Regions from separate parts of the Homo sapiens genome. Here regions 1, 2 and 3 are each reported to be linked to region 4. The links are microRNA targets in miRTarBase. Many come from high-throughput screens and were not tested one by one. Region 4 holds a microRNA gene; each other region holds the end of a gene's coding sequence.
What was found. Region 4 holds the annotated microRNA hsa-miR-8076 (UAUAUGGACUUUUCUGAUACAAUG, at 2,798-2,821, shown strand). A microRNA usually pairs through its seed, bases 2 to 8, with sites in the 3' UTR of a target mRNA and lowers its output. Matches are read on the target gene's strand: a 7mer-m8 pairs with bases 2 to 8, a 7mer-A1 pairs with bases 2 to 7 and ends in A, and an 8mer does both.

Region 1: the mRNA of POPDC1 is a reported target of hsa-miR-8076. Seed matches in the 3' UTR shown: 8mer at 1,174-1,181, 7mer-m8 at 1,570-1,576, 7mer-A1 at 3,480-3,486 and 8mer at 3,720-3,727.
Region 2: the mRNA of PCDH7 is a reported target of hsa-miR-8076. Seed matches in the 3' UTR shown: 8mer at 991-998.
Region 3: the mRNA of CRADD is a reported target of hsa-miR-8076. Seed matches in the 3' UTR shown: 8mer at 729-736 and 8mer at 745-752.

The regions. Positions count from the first base shown.
Region 1 is chr6:105,097,740-105,101,793 of GRCh38, reverse strand. POPDC1 (popeye domain cAMP effector 1) reads left to right here. Exons shown (of 8, transcript NM_001199563.2): 8 at 581-4,054. The coding sequence ends at 705. Among named protein-coding and RNA genes, the nearest start is that of POPDC1, 37 kb to the left of the region's middle.
Region 2 is chr4:31,142,377-31,146,430 of GRCh38, reverse strand. PCDH7 (protocadherin 7) reads right to left here. Exons shown (of 3, transcript NM_001173523.2): 3 at 1-3,958. The coding sequence ends at 3,582. Among named protein-coding and RNA genes, the nearest start is that of LINC02497, 27 kb to the left of the region's middle.
Region 3 is chr12:93,849,852-93,853,905 of GRCh38, forward strand. It overlaps CRADD (CARD and death domain containing adaptor protein), which reads left to right. Exons shown (of 3, transcript NM_003805.5): 3 at 119-905. The coding sequence ends at 420. Among named protein-coding and RNA genes, the nearest start is that of CRADD-AS1, 110 kb to the left of the region's middle.
Region 4 is chr3:113,430,881-113,434,948 of GRCh38, reverse strand. MIR8076 (microRNA 8076) reads left to right here and starts at 2,749; the gene lies at 2,749-2,831. It overlaps CFAP44 (cilia and flagella associated protein 44), which reads left to right. Exons shown (of 35, transcript NM_001164496.2): 2 at 1,280-1,384. The coding sequence starts at 1,285. It overlaps SPICE1-CFAP44 (SPICE1-CFAP44 readthrough (NMD candidate)), which reads left to right. Exons shown (of 52, transcript NR_183050.1): 21 at 1,280-1,384. CFAP44-AS1 (CFAP44 antisense RNA 1) reads right to left here. Exons shown (of 6, transcript NR_046728.1): 5 at 1,278-1,366; 6 at 957-1,157.

The sequences.
Region 1 (4,054 bases), not on the chromosome of region 4:
GCCTGGGATTGCGTTTCCTCTACTTGGCTTGTCCCTCCTGAATGCCTGGCCTTTCTTCCTCTTCCCCTGTCTCCTTTGCGTGTAAGCCCAGTGGGTGGCTGGACTCCATGGTGGAGGCAAGAAATGTTTTAGGTGATATTACAGATGGTGATTAGGTTCCATAATTTTGGAATAGAAGTATTCTTTGGGGAAATTAGGAGTTAAATCAACTTTCAAGGGCTAATATGAGACTCAAGCCCCCATGTATGATATTAATGTAGGAACATGCGTTCTGAGTCCTAAGCAGACTGTGGGGCAAACCCCTGGGAACTGAATATATTTGAGAAGCTCAGATCATCCAAGCACATGCGGTGGAATCTGTCCCTCATCTGTGCTCCTGACTGAGAGTCTCTTCTTGACTTGGTTATTTTATTGAGATGCTGGATTGAAATAGAATGGTTTATGGAAATTGTGTTCTTGGTGCTGCTAGTGATAGATTCCTACAGTTTTATTTTCCAGTTGGAATTTATAATTGATATATCACACCAGGGTCTGGGTAGATTGTGCATTCAGTGGTTTTCCCTCCTGTATCTTTCCACAGATGTGTCATCCCCACACCAGCGAGCCTCTGCCAAGATGAAACCGATAGAAGAAGGAGCAGAAGATGATGATGACGTTTTTGAACCGGCATCTCCAAATACATTGAAAGTCCATCAGCTGCCTTGATCAGAGAGAGAATTCAGGTTACCAAGACGGAAGGTGTCTTGAAGAGATCCTGAAAAATACCAGCACTTTTTCATGGCTTTTAGGTTATTCTGCTTTAGTGCATCCAGACTGGTGGAGTCGGAGGGAGGAAGTGAGGAAGGGTCAAGGATGGAAGAGTTCTTTCACTTACCCTTTTTATTAGTCAGCTTTTAAAGTAATTGTTTTACTGAGCCTTCTGACTATGCCTTGTTCTCTTTTGAGATATATATTTTCACAGTCTTTTCTAGATATATTATTGTTTTAACTTAACAAATCTTAGCAATCTCTCAATGCCTTTTCACTTATTTTTTTCCAAGTTATGATTCTTTTTCCTCACAGTCTTTTTTGTTCCATAGCAATGAGGTTGTCCATTTGATAATTTTAACAAACAATGTAAGTTTAAAATTGAGGCTAAGGTAACATGAAAAAGCAGGGAATCTCAAACTTTATTCCATATATACACACACACACACACACACACACACACACATACATACATACATATATATATATATATACATATATATACATACACACATACATATAATTTTTTTTTTTTTTGAGATGGAGTTTCACTCTGTCGCCCAGGCTGGAGTGTAGTGGCACATTCTCAGCTCACTGCAAACTCCACCTCCTGGATTCACGCCACTCTCCTGCCTCAGCCTCCCGAGTAGCTGGGACTACAGGCACCTGCCACCGCGCCCAGCTAATTTTTTTGTATTTTTAGTAGAGATGGGGTTTCACTGTGTTAGCCAGGATGGTCTCGATCTCCTGACCTCGTGATCCGCCCACCTTGGCCTCCCAGAGTGCTGGGATTACAGGCGTGAGCCACCGCGCCCGGCCTATTCCATATTTTTTTAATGGGACATTTTAGAGAAAGGTGTGATTTGACTGGTTTTATTTTTCTCCCAGGCCAGAAGTATTACTCCACTAGATCACCTTACTTAATTGGGCACTGTGTGGATAACTTGATAATGAACAAAACTCTCAGATTTTACTCACATTACCCTTGTATTATGCCATTTATAAACTGCTCTGAAACCTGAAGCTGGAAAGATAACAGATGGGTTTCTGAGCACGGGGTTAACCTCCAGCTAAACTCAACTTCCTTGGGATTTGGAGTCACCATGTTGTGCACACTCTGGTGTGGGAAACACTTTATGTAGGGTGGGAGGACAGGGGAGTTAAATGGCTGGGCAGGTGCCACAGGATGAGGCCACTGAAAGATCTGCTTCATTCTTTGATCTGTATTCTGAAGTTCCAGATTGTTCATCTAGAGGCAGAGACATCTCTTTTAAAAAAGTGCCAGATGCCCCAGTGCCAGAGCTGCGAACGTGAACACAGTGGAAGGCAGAGGGTTTACTACAGGCCAGGCCATGGACACCCCACCCAGGTACTGCAGTGAGGGCCTTGATTCCAGAGCTCTTTTTCCTACTGAAATCATGGTTTAGTAAACAGTGGCATTTGGCTGGTGGGAAATGCGTAACTGGTCAGTGTGTCTGGCCAGCGTGGCTGTGGCACTTGGCCAGGACGCTCCGTTGAATGAAGCTCATTGATTGGCCATGCTGGTCATGTCTATTTTGCTTCATCCACTAGAACCAACTTTGAGTCAGTCTCCTGTTACGTTAAATGGCTAAGAAAAGTTCCAAATGAAGTTGTTCTCAGGTGAACTGAGCCAAAAGAAGCAACTCTTACCATGAGGTGATTTCTGTTAGAGGAGACATATAAATAAGCTCATCTAGGGTCACCTCATTTTCCTAAATATGTTTTTAAAGCAATTATTGTAGTAATTTCATTTGAGTTAAATTTACATGCTCGGTCACTCATTGAGAAAATTTACACAGACTCTGAATCCAGTTCCTGTCATCTTCAGATGTTGGTTTATTGACATCACAGTAAAAAGGCTACTGTCGACTGGACACAGTGGCTCACACATGTAATCACAGCACTTTGGGGGGCCAAGGTGGGTGGATTGCTTAAGCCCAGGAGTTCAAGACCAGCCTGGGCAACATGGCTAAACCCCATCTCTACAAAAAAAATTAGCTGGGTGTGGTGGTACATACCTGTAGTCCCAGCTACTCAGAAGGCTGAGGTGGGAGGTTCACTTGAACCTGGGAGGTTGAGGTTGCAGTGAGCACAGATCACACCACTGCACTCCAGCCTGGGCAACAGAGTGAGACCCTATTTCAAAAAAAGGCTGCTTTCACTGTACTGCTGCAGCAGTCTCTTCAGGTAGCTAAATTAGGAGCTTGTTTTGGAGAAATGAAGCAAAGGTGAATGACAGCCTAGGCTTGAAATTATAAAGCTCTCTCAGGTTGAACTCTCTCGTGCGCTCTCGCTCTCACTTTCGCCCTGTACCTGAGAGCACAGGTGTAACTGTGATGTCATAGTGCCGAGACTACTTTCCTTTAACCATTGGGGTTAAGTTGGGCAGCCCATTTAGTTTACACGCGCATAAGACTAATTTACAAAATCACTCTATACAGTCATTAGATGTAACATCCTTCCCTGAGTAGAAAGTAATGCATGTGTTTGGAGATTATTTTCTGTAATGCTGGGAACAAACCTGTTTTAAAAGCACACTGCTAAAAGTAGGTGATATAAGACCATTTGCTGTTTTTATTAAAGTATGTGTGTGTATCAGTGTCTCAATGTGAAGATTGTAACCTCAAGATTAGGAATCTTAAAAGAGCCACTTAGCCTGAATGGGAAACGTGAGACTATTTTTAAACACACACCTCTAAGGAAGAAGCCTCCCATATAGACTTGATCTCAAAGAAGCAGATAAGAAGACAGAAAAGTGTTTTAAGTGTAAGATCTCCTATGGAGTACTTTAAATTCATTTATACAAATGAATAAGTGTATCTTTGTATAATGCATAAATACATAGATAAAAACATGTTTGCTGCCAAAGTTCCCAATAAGATGCTTCCTGTGTTTTTTGGCCTTTACTTAGCTGAATGATCAAAGTTCAGAAAATGGTCTGCAAAAGTTACTCCATATACAACCCCAAATCTACTACTTTAAATGTAACATCAACTCAGTTGTATGAATCTGGAGTGTAATATTTATATTAGAATGTATATGTCATTTAAAATATTTTGAAAGCCCTCATAAATATTTATATTTACTAAACTAATAGCATAGACACTATATAAATCCGCAGTGATGCTTATATATCTTAAATTAGTAATAATGGGTGCTATATAATTATTTTCAGTTACTATCCCTGACACTCTGGAATCTTCTCCATTTCTCCCTATCACTCAATTTCATTTTAATCATTGGACACCTTTGCGTTTTGCTGCTAACAGTGTGTGTATGTCACCCT
Region 2 (4,054 bases), not on the chromosome of region 4:
CACAACTCACAAGATTTACTATATTCATGATCATGCTCACTTTTTATTATTTATTTATTTATTTATTTATTTATTTATTTTTGCTTAAGGACACATTTTCTTATTTCTCACTGAGAGCATATACCTAAGATTATTTAGGTCTTTAGATTTCTCATGACTGTTTTTGGATGGCTGTTTGCTTCTTGACAATTTCTTCTGGTCTGTGTGTTTTATTCTATTTTCCTACAAGACAGCTTCCTAGGGTAGTGTTTCAGTCAGACATCCTCAGTACCATCTTAGTTCCTCCTCCCATAAAAATAATGCCTCCCTTGTTTTCTGAAACTCAGGCAGCAGGCCAGTCAGAAACCATACAGAAATGATATCTGGAGATTCAGAAAGAGCAGTAGATTTTAGATTGAAGCTACAGACGTTTTAATACACATAAATTTATATAGTTACTCATTAATTTATAAATGTGTCCTAATGTATAATGCATGCAAAATTCACTTGAGAGTCTTGTGTACAGAAAACAAATATGGTTTATATACTGTACAACCAAAATGAAACCATAGCTGAAAGAAACACAACAAAAAAGAAATAAAGAATAAAACTCTAAATCAGTATTTTACCTTGCCAAATGGACTGATTTCACTCCTGATAGTATCTCTGTGTTACACTTACAATAAACGCTTTCATCTTCTAGTCAGATTTAAGCAGCCCATATTAATGCCTTAACTTTGCTTTATGACATAACAATATTTAAGACTGGTCCATTATCTGAGTTTGTCAGAAGGCAAATTTTTAATATATTATTTATTATGTTCAGAAAATAAACATGGACAAATATACAGGATCAAAAAAGTTGGGAATAGCCCATTTCCCCTCATTGTCCAAACCCAACAACCGTTTTTTTACCGTAACAACAGGTATAAAAGGCACAGTTGCTTATTTTGCATTCACTCATTTATTTTTTTTGTTTCTTTTTATTGATTTTTTTTCAAAAGCACTCTATATATGGAGTGGCACCAGATTTAACCTATTTAAAATAAAAGTCATACAAACACAAAATATATTTCTGTGTCATGCCAGCTCATTATATAATAAACATGTTATGACAGCTAATTCTACTAGAATTACTGTGAATACTTACAGTACACTGAATTTTATTCTTTCACATCCATTTTAGTTTTAAAGAGAGGTTCACGAGTTAAATGACAATGGCATGGCTATCTTGAATGGGGTGCAAACATCATTGGGGAATGTGGATCCAATTAATCCGAAGGTCCGGTGTGACCCGTATTAGTTTTATAGACAAGAGAAGGGTTTAAGATAGGGTGAAATGAGCTATCAGTGGTTTCAATGTCTCATGAAAGAAAGAAATGCATTAAAAAAAAAAAAGTTTGTCAAACATCCGTGTTATGCAATTGAGTATTTTCTTTGTAACGTGCAAGAAAAAATGTGTATACATTTCATAAGTATCTTTAGAAGTATTTTGTCTTAATAGGTACTTACAGATTATACAAGGCAGAACTGCTTTAATGCAGTTTCCTAACAAAGTACTAGAATTGCATCTTTCCATAGTGTAAATAATAATCAAACATAAACATGTTCAATTACTGATATTTTAGTCCAATGTTTTTTGTTTCAATTACATATCTTTTTGCATCCTACCTATTATACATAAACTAACATCAAAATGAAAACTCCATTTAAGAAAGAGCATAAGGAAATGACCCCCAAATTGTACCCCACCAAACAGAGAAGCGGTTTTCAAAGATAAGTATTTTGAAGACCTATAGTGAATTATCAACCTATATTCCAGGCTGTGTCACTTTATAGTCTAAGAAATTCTGCAAAGCATGAAACTACCCAAAGCTACATTGTTTCTACAGTTTGCTAGAGAGCCATCAAGGCTATGCCTTAACCAGCTTGCAAACATTCAGTGATAAGTTTGTTCTCTTCACACCTGTTATTCCCTATTCTGTCCATGGATTGTCACTTTCGTCTGAATGTCCCAGCTCAATTTTCAGCCGTGTTAGGTTATCCTCTATAGAGTGAGTAGCTCAAAATCTGCATATTCTGTTTCTTTTTATTGCACTGGAAAAACTCTGCTTTCACCTTTGAGATATACATTCTGTGAAAAATGTCACTGCCCAAAACTCCTTTCTTTCATGTTCAGTCTAGATTTGTTTAAATAATGTTCAAATCACATTAGTGATAAAGTCAACTAGGGTGTCACCTTGTTTCAATGTTGTGAGTCTCAAAATATTTCTATATTGCACACGATTCAAAATTAATGCACTTGTGGTGCATCAAAGTGTGCACTGAACAAGTAAAAAATGCAATTGTAATTTAAAATGTGGATAAAAAGAGCAGCAAGCATAGCCTGGATTCTAAAATGATAATCGTGGACTTAACTATCAAGACTATATGCCAATGCATCTTTCTTAACCTACCCATGATCCATAAATACTATTTTAAAACATGGAATCTTCCCTGATAATATTACCTGAAACTAAACTTGAACCTCAACCAATTGCCTATTATAATACCAAAAATATATCTCACTAGTTTTCATTTTCTGCGCTTTCAAATAAAATCCATTTTAAAAGAAGGAACATTTTCCTGGGCACTATAAAATGAACTAGTGTTTGATTGTTTCTGTGCATACATGGGTTCAGTTGCTTTTGTTGTTTAATGGTTTTCCACGTCAAGACCAAATCAACTTCATGACTTCCCTGATCTGCCATATGATCTTTGGCCTTTGGATGATACAATTGTTCAAGTTAGTTAATAATAGTGGTCTTGTTCTGAAAAAATATATATAATTTTTAGAAGTCATAACTGGTGAAATTGATACATGTAATCAAGACTGTGTGTATACTGAGAATATTTGGTGAATGTATGGAATTGAAGTTGATGCTCTTGACCTGAAAATAACAACATATGACAATTTAGGACTGCAATCACCCACTGAGTATTGTTTTTCTCTTAGTCTTTGTTGGAATATTAAAGCTTTGATATTCCCAAAATACTTTTTAATACAGTCCCTCTTTCTAAGGACTGTACCTTTAGAGGGACTCTATCACTTTCAAAGGATTGCCTTTGATGGTGATAAACCATTTTCTGATGGTATGTCTGAAATACATTTTATCTGTCCTGCTTATTTTTGACCAGCCAGATGACACTCGAACAAAATCAAAGTGACTAAAATCATGCTTCAGCTTAGGGATAATGAGGGTGTGTTGTGTTCTGCTAATCAGGCTTCGTACAGTTACTGTGAAAGAAACTTGCAACTATCCCCCTTTTTTTTTCTTTTCTTTTTGTTTTTTTTTTTTTGGAGAGGGGTGGGGAAGAGAAAGTGAGTGTTGGGAATCAGTGAAGGGGTTAGACATGCAAGTAACAAGGATGGTTTCTACATTGTACAGTAGAATCAGGCTAACAGTATCACTAAAGGCCTGATCTGGAGGCAGAAGTGGCAGGCAAAGCTTTGTCTCTTTGGTAGCCCCCTCTTTGTGATTAAACGTTTTGCTTTGTAAGGTTTTTGCCCCTTATTCTCCTTTTCATACATGTAAAGAACTTTGCTGTTGCTCCTTTATAGCCTACAGGTAAACTTCTCTTCTAGTGAGAGTATTGACAGGAGATGGCTTATATTCCCCTGTTTTTGTAAGGGGAATATCCTCAGGGTTGGCTTCCTCATTTTTGCTGAAACTAGCTGCACTGAAGGTCTCATAGGATGAGGTCAACTTTTTGTTCAGGAGGTTTCTGTTGCGGTCACCCATGATGGCGGCCTCCCCATTGGCCAGCTTTTCCTGGCTTCCTCGTTCATCAACAGGCATGAAAGTGGACAGTTTAGGCTGGCTCTTCTTCCTCTCCGGAGAAGTGCGGACCGGCATCCAGCAGGAGTCTGAGTGGCCATACTCATCACACTCACGAGTGCACTTCCCAGTCAGGGCTACATCTGGAAGAGGCCTTGAATCTGAAATCCAAGGAGAATAAGCCATTAGTATTTGACACTCCTCAACAGGCTCCCCTGATCTATATGAAATTAGAGGAAATATATAAATATATTCCT
Region 3 (4,054 bases), not on the chromosome of region 4:
CCAATTGGCTCTGCCATTTGGAAGCATTGCCTTCTTCTCCCCACGATTCTCATTTCTGCCCCCAAATGATGTGTTTGTTGCCTTGCTCATTTCACCGGGGTGTCTTTTTCCTCCTCAGGTGACAGATTGACTGGGATCCCCTCGCACATCCTCAACAGCTCCCCATCAGACCGGCAGATTAACCAGCTGGCCCAGAGGCTGGGCCCTGAGTGGGAGCCCATGGTGCTGTCTCTGGGACTGTCCCAGACGGATATCTACCGCTGTAAGGCCAACCACCCCCACAACGTGCAGTCGCAGGTGGTGGAGGCCTTCATCCGTTGGCGGCAGCGCTTCGGGAAGCAGGCCACCTTCCAGAGCCTGCACAACGGGCTGCGGGCTGTGGAGGTGGACCCCTCGCTGCTCCTGCACATGTTGGAGTGATGGTGCCTCCAGCAACCGCTGGGGAGTGTGTCCCTGAGTCATGTGGGCTGAATCCTGACTTTCACTCAGAGCAGGTGGTTTTTTGTGTAGGTTTGTTTTTTATTTTTGATGATCTTCAGATGGAAGGAGAAAACAGGGTTTCCACTAGACATTACTTGAAAGGCCAGATTACTCAGCAGATCTCCCATGTTGGCTCAACAATTCTTTGTTTTTAATTGCTTGAAGATTGCATTGTTGTAATTGTTCAGTTTTTAAATGTGTAATGGCATTTTAATAGACTAGTAAATCACAGTGGTTCAAAATATATATCCATATATATATATATCCATATATATATCTCATGTCATCACATTACAGGCAGGTGTCTCATATGTAAAACATTTACCTGAATGTTGTCTGAGGACTGAACTGTGGACTTTACTATTCATAATGATAAAATAATAAAATGCGAATTACTATATATAATGTGCCTCACTCATGAGAAAGTACCGTGTTGGGTTTTTTTTTTTCTTTCTCATTCCTGTGTTGCATAGATTAAGGGTGTAAAATTACAATAGTCTTTTTTTTCTTTTTGGAACAGAATTAATAGTAACAGTGAAATGGTTACTTTCCCAAGTCAGGATAAATAGCTCAGGCAGGATGTCTGTATTAAATATTGTAAGACACTAAAGCTCCCTGCAAAGACCAGTTCAAGGACCAGCATGCATACCCGAGCCCTTCATCTTTAAAAGATCGCTCGAGAAAATCCTGTGCTGTTTATTGAAAGCATTAAGTCAGGGGACGAGAGGGGGTGTGGTCTTTCCATTGAAGCCAGAATGACTGAAGTGTTGTGCTCCTAAGGAGTATGATTTAGTCTTCTGTCCTTTTATCAATAGCACATGGTGTTTATAGAATGCTTTACTGTTTTCACGGCTTTTCCTGTATGTGATCTCATTTGGACCTCTCAGCAATGCTGTGGGGCAGTGGGCAAGGTGGTTCACCTCCTTCTGTACAGAGATTGAGTGATTGGCCCAGGGTGAATGAGGTTGGGTGCCGGCTCCTGAGCCTTTCCAACTGCTCCACAGGGCTCCTCCCCTTCTCTCTTGCATGCTCATTGAAGAAGCTTGAATCCTGCTCCCCGCCTACTAGGTGTATGGCCTTGGACAAGTTACTTACCCTCTCTACACCTCAGTTTCCTCATTGGCAGAATGGGGAAATGATTGTACTCACCTCTGAGGTCTTTGTGATGATTAAAGCAATAATGTCCGCCAACAGCACATCCAGATGCAGCTCATTGTCAGCTTTCAGGAAATGGTAGCTGTTAATTTGCCGCCACTGTGGCTGAAGGTATGGTTAGACCACAGGCAAAGCTGAATAGTGGCTGAAAGCTGAGGGCACTGTGGGAGGAGCTACTATTGCCACATTTCTTACTAAGCTTTAAAATGGGATTTGATTTTATAAACTTTACAATGGGGCCAGTCTGTGATCTATCCTTCTTAATAATTACGGAATCTGTTTCCTAATTCTAACATAACTCAGGATTTTTCAAAAGGGAGAAAAAAATCATGTTTTTTATTTCTCTCCATTCCAAGAATAAATTTATGGAATGGTAGAATTGAGCACGAAGTGGGTACTTAAAAAGATGACAATAGTGTGTGGATAACATCCTTTCAGGCATCTTGTAACCATATTCCTGTTACTAAAAAAGAGCTGCTATGCCACAGTTTATTCTTCCAGTGAATTCGGTTCAAAAGGATAGTCTACTGGCCTTATCAGTTCAAATTTTTCATTTTGTAGCCCAGCCAATAATTCATTATCTTATAAAATTCTCATGCTTTTGGCCATATCACTGTGCCCAGTGATAGACTGTACTGCTGTGGCATCTTCAGTGAATCACTTGTCATTTTGAACCTGGGACTTATTACATTGCTGTCTTCCCCCTGGGTTTCCTAATAGAGAGTTGCTTTGGCTTTTGTTCTCACAGCTCAGAGTCACATTCATGGATGAGTGAGTAGAGCTGGGCTCTGCTGCGTCTGACTAGATGGCATTTTAGAAGCAGGTCTGATGATTAGCTGGGTCATCTTTCCGCCATTCACCATTTGCAAGGAATCTGTCACGCATAAAGACACTCGTGGGCTCTGTCAGCAGTGAGAGACAATTAGTGAAGAACAAGCCCACGATGGGCCAGACAGACAGGGCCGAGGGGGCCCTTAGAGACCTCTGACTTGTTGCCCTTCACAAGCAGAGTGTCTTCACCACCAAATGGCGGCAGCCCCTCCCTGGCCTGCTCACGTGCTTGCAGAAGATTTGCAGAGTGGAAGAACAGAGCAGCTGAATCCCTATCTTGGTACTACCTCTGGCCATGAAGAATAATGCTACATAGCAGCTGCCTACCTCCTAACAGAACTGGGGAGGTGAAGAGCCTGCAGGGATTTCCTGTGTTTGTATGGGAGAAGATTCTACAATTTCAGAGACTGTTTATCCCCAAGAAAACTGAATGAATGCAGCGAGGTGGCAAGAGCATTTGCCGGCACTGACAGAAAGTATATGAATATATAGTCTTGCACCACTTTGGGTTGGGTTGGAGTGTGTGTGTGTGTGTGTGTGTGTGTGTGCATATGCATGCATGAGTGTGGCCCTTCATGTTTTTAAAACTATAACTTTTATTAATTTTTTCAACATGAAGTACATGTTTATTATGGCAGTTTGAAAAAAAACACAATAAGATGAAGAAAAATAAGAATTACCCCTACTCCCATCTAAGCACTGTACATCCCAATTTTTATCCCTGTCCTCCAATTAGTTTTCTCTGCCTGCATATCCTTTTCATAAAAAGAATAGGATTTTCTCTGCATTTCCTTATAAAAAGTGTTATATTTTCCAACTGATAATACACTTATTTTTTTTTGTCGATGTGGGACTATTTAGAGAGACTAAACTGTGTAATTAAAATGATGCATCTTTTTAATATTCCTCAATGGCATACTCCAAATGATCTTTATATTCATGGCTTAAAATTAACTAAATTAAGTTTTCAATTTTATTACAAGAATGGGATTATATTGTACCTGCTGCTTTACAAGTGGCATCTTTTATATAACATCAAACTGTCTTTCTGTGTCATTATTTCTCTGTGCCAATGATTTCAATATCCTTTGTGTTCACAACACACTTTCGAGTCCTATAATTTTTGTGGCATGTTTGAAGAGATAAAAGGACACTTAGCTACTAAAAAGATGACAATAAGTATAGCAATGTCTTTCACTCTCAAAACCATTGTCCCACTTTTTGCTCCATCCCCGTTTGGAACCATGTTCCAAGCAGTAGAGCTGTTTACGGCTCCCCTCTATGCACTCTTATATCCTCAAAAAGCAAAGTTTAGCACAGTCTGGGCTTTATTCTGAGATTTTATCTCTTCCTAACAGCAAGATGGCCTCTACACTGCCTGATGATCCAATCAGCTTCGTGTTCCATTTCCACAAGAGTACGTGTTCTGGGAGGGCAAATGAATTTTACCTGTTGATCCAAATGTGATGGCACGCTTATGAAGGGTTGATAGTCTACGTGTTGCCACTATTCGCTGCCGTCATTTTCAATGATGCACAGCTTTCCAGTGTGTGGATGCGCCGTCATGTCTTAACCACTTCCCTGCGTG
Region 4 (4,068 bases):
GAAGGGAGACAGTCATCATACTACACTCTCCTTTGTCCTTTGATCGTGTAGTGTACCATATCTGCTTTAGGCATACCAGTCTATCTTCAGAGACCAGGAAGATATAACAGTGTGGCAGTTTAAGTAACCCTCATAGCAGGCTTGTAAAAAGTTTTTTCTTCATTCCCATTACAGTTGGGGAATTCATATAAAGTTTAGTTAGCTAGTTATATGTCAGTACTGGGATTCAAACCCTAATCTAACTATAAATCTGATCCAAATAGAACTAGTGTTCCATTCTGCTTGCCAGGCATATCGTAGAAGAATGTTGAGGAAACATAGGGTGTTTAGTATAGAGAAGTGAAGACTTAGAAGGAAGGTGTTTTCAAATATATGAAAAGCTGCATTATAGACAGAGGGCAGAGAAAACCTGTTGTGTCGCTCCCCTCTTTAAAACCCTTTAATGGTTTTCAGTTGTCAAGGAAATAAGGTATAAACTTCTTAGCAAAGCTTAGAGACAACTTTATGATATGGTACCCACCTTCTCTTCAATATCCATTTTACTCTCCCACTCTGGCCAATAGACTGCTTGCAGCCCTTTAAAGATGCAGCCCTCTTTGATGTGCCTAATGTATCTTTCACATTCTTTGCCTGGCCAACTCCTGACCATCATCCATGTCTCAAACACCTCTTCTCTAACCCCCCATCATGTTTTAGGCTTCTTGCTATACATGCCCACAGTACCATTTTCCTTTTTGTAGCACTCATTATTTTTAATTGCTTGTTTAATATCTATCTTTATAAACAAGCTCCATAAAGTTAGGGACCATATTTCTCTTCTCCAGGTTTGTAATTTAGTACCCAACATAAGACTTGATACACTGCAGGTGTGCTCAAAAAATATTTTAAAAACTGAAATTGATTAGTAACTCCAAGGGAATTTGAAAATAGAGAAAGAGGGAGGGATGGACCAAAGGTAGGATGGCAGAAAGTTAATTTTAATGGTGAAGCATCTGGGGAAAAGATGAACTTTGGTAGTGGACCTCTGGAAAACCAAAGTGCACCACAATGACAATTTACCTAGAGAAAGAGAATCTGTGATTATAATTAGCTGTCTTGCAGAGGTCAGAGGTCTCTGGTGGTAGTTGCACCCTCCTACTGGTGGGTCATCCTGGATCCTGTGCAAACAAGGATTATTGACACACATGGTGTTTGGTGCTAATGAAATATGTTAGGGGGAAATCTGTTAGTTTCAATTTTACAGCTTTATCCATATCTCATCCCCATTTTGTACTTACAGAGGAAATGAAGGAACCAGATGATCAGGATACTGATGGGGAGAAATCAGTTACATCAAAGAGTGATGGGAAGAAGTCTCTGAGGTCTTCTAAATCAGAATCAAGATGTAAGTAAAGATAATATGTATACTTTTAAAAGTATTAAACTTAGGTAAACATTTAAATAATTAATTTTTATAGTAGAATGGAAAGAGCAGGATGTTATAAAATAGATCTTTTTTTTTTTTTTTTTTTTTTTTTTTGAGATGGAGTTTTGCTCTTGTTGCCCAGGCTATAGTGCAATGGTACGATCTTGGCTTACTATAACCTCCGTCTTCTGGGTTCAAGTGATTCTCCTGCCTCAGCCTCCTGAGTAGCTGGGATTACAGGTGCCTGCTACCACACCCAGCCAATTTTTGTATTTTTAGTAGAGATGGGGTTTCATCATATTGGTCAGGCTGGTCTCGAACTCCTGACCTCAGGTGATCCACCTGCCTCTGCCTCCCAAAGTGCTGGGATTACAGGCATGAGCCACCATGCTGGGCCAAAATAGATCTTATACTCCCTGTTCCCAGAAAGCTGTAGGAAGGTGGGCTCCATAAAAATGATGGAGTTAGCAAAGAAAAAGGACTACATATGGTCCAGGAAATAGGAGATTCAAAATAGAAATAAGGTAAAGGTAATGCCTAGGATGACACTTGGGCAGCCATGCAGAGAACAATTATACTGAAGCAAGGAAAGGAGAATTTTCACCTCCAAGAAAGTTAAAAATGTTAAATAATAGATTATCTGATAGATGCATGTAGAAAATTGAACTGAGTGGAATTTATAGAACTATGACAAGATGTGGGAATATTTATCAGGAGATTCCAGAAAGTTAAAAAGTGAAAATAAATGAGGTATTAGTTTTAGAAAAGCGAGTTGTTCAAGAAGGAAATAAAATAATACATTCTTAACTCAGGAATGAGTGTTATTAAGGCAGTATACTAAAAATAGTAAGCATGGACTTCACTATAGTTTTTTTGTGCTTTGATTATATTGCAAGGGCGGAGAGATAGCAAGTGGTGATAGAGATTTAACATTCTTCATCTTCCCATAATAAACACTGTCTAAAAGTAGCTAGAGAGAGCAGTATATCCATATTGTTTAGATATATGGAGGTAAATATCAGAAGAAAAAAGATTAAAAGCTAAAAGTGATTCTTCTGGAGAGATAGAGAAGGCTGTTAAGCAGGGAAAAGTTGAGTATTTTAAAAGACAAGTCTTTTAGCATTACTTGACTTTTTAAGTTATGGGCATGTACTTCAACAAAACTAAAAATAATTTTCTAAAAGTCAAAAAAATGGGCAAAATAATTTTTAAATAGTGCATATCTGGGTTTATAGAACAGAAATGGTTTACTTGTTCAACTCCCTTACAAAGCTCTAAGTTCCTTAAGAGCTGTCTGTGTTTTACTTATTTATCACAGCTCCTGGCACACAAGTTGATAATAACCTATCCACACGTCTGGTCTAGAGTTCTCCTGTGAGAGCTACTAAGTCTTATATGGACTTTTCTGATACAATGTAGTGGAAAGAGACCTGGACTTTGGTTTTGAGTCCTGGATCTACCATTTAGAGATGCTTGATCTTGGAAACATTACCACATCTTTCTGAGCCTCAATTTTCTCACCCATTAAAACAATTATGAGTCATTTGGGAATTAAATTGCATAACATGTGGAAGGACTTCATAGGCTGCAATGGAAGAAAAAAGGAGGAATTTTATAACTAGGATTTTTGAAAGATGGCTGGCTCTTTCTGACTGACTATCACGATGTTAGGTATCTTAGTGGAATCTTGACTATTTAAGGTTCTAATCCTAAATATGATTTGAGAAATTTAATTTTGACTGTTCACCTAGAGAAGATCAGGTCCTGGGAAAATCAATACACATGCAAAATTTGCATTAAATTCTTTTAATCTATCGCAGACATGTCTTGTAAATCCACAGTTTCTCCACATTATATTTTATTTTAGGCATTTGTCTTCTCTGGTTTAGACTCTTGCAACATGGATTTCTACCTCAGTCTTCCTGTCCAGATCTCCCTCCACACCACCACTAGAGTTCTTTCCAAAAAGTATCATTATATCGCTTACTTCAGAAACTTTAGTTTGTTCCCCCCTAGTTTTTCCTTTTTCATGTTTCTGTACTCCCTACATTTCTGACACAGGATTGTCTGTGTGTTGGTTTCCAGTCCTCGGCAGTGTTTTCCTGGATGCTACTCTCAACTTTCCCTTGATGGATTTAATGATAATGACCCTTTGTCTAGCATTGCCTTCAGGACCTGCCTTCCTTATGTCAGATGCTGTTAGGCGCAGACCTTTTCAAGTGTGACCTGGCCCAGTGCTCAGCTCATTAATTAGTTCACATATCATATGTCTTAGACTCCCAAATGATAATGTGAAATAATTTTCTGGCATTCTGAACATCCTGTACCTTGTTGCTGCGTGAAGAGGTCTCTTCCTCCTGGCTCAGCCTCATACCTGATCATAGCTGCATTCCCCCCACCCCTGAAAACCTTGCTTTGCTCTCAGGCTTGTTAGCACATCCAGCAAGTTTTTACTCTGGGATTCTCATGTAGAATGAATAAAAGTCCTTGTATTCCACCCAAGCAGAGAAGTTGGAGTAGACTTTTTCCCATACTTAACAAGAGGTTTCTGCTATCTCTGAGTTCTATTAAGAAATTTAGGTCGAGTGTACCAGCTAAACCATCCATCATTTCTCACGATGGTGAAGGACTGTTAGTTACTAAGGCATTGATTTCTTATGCTT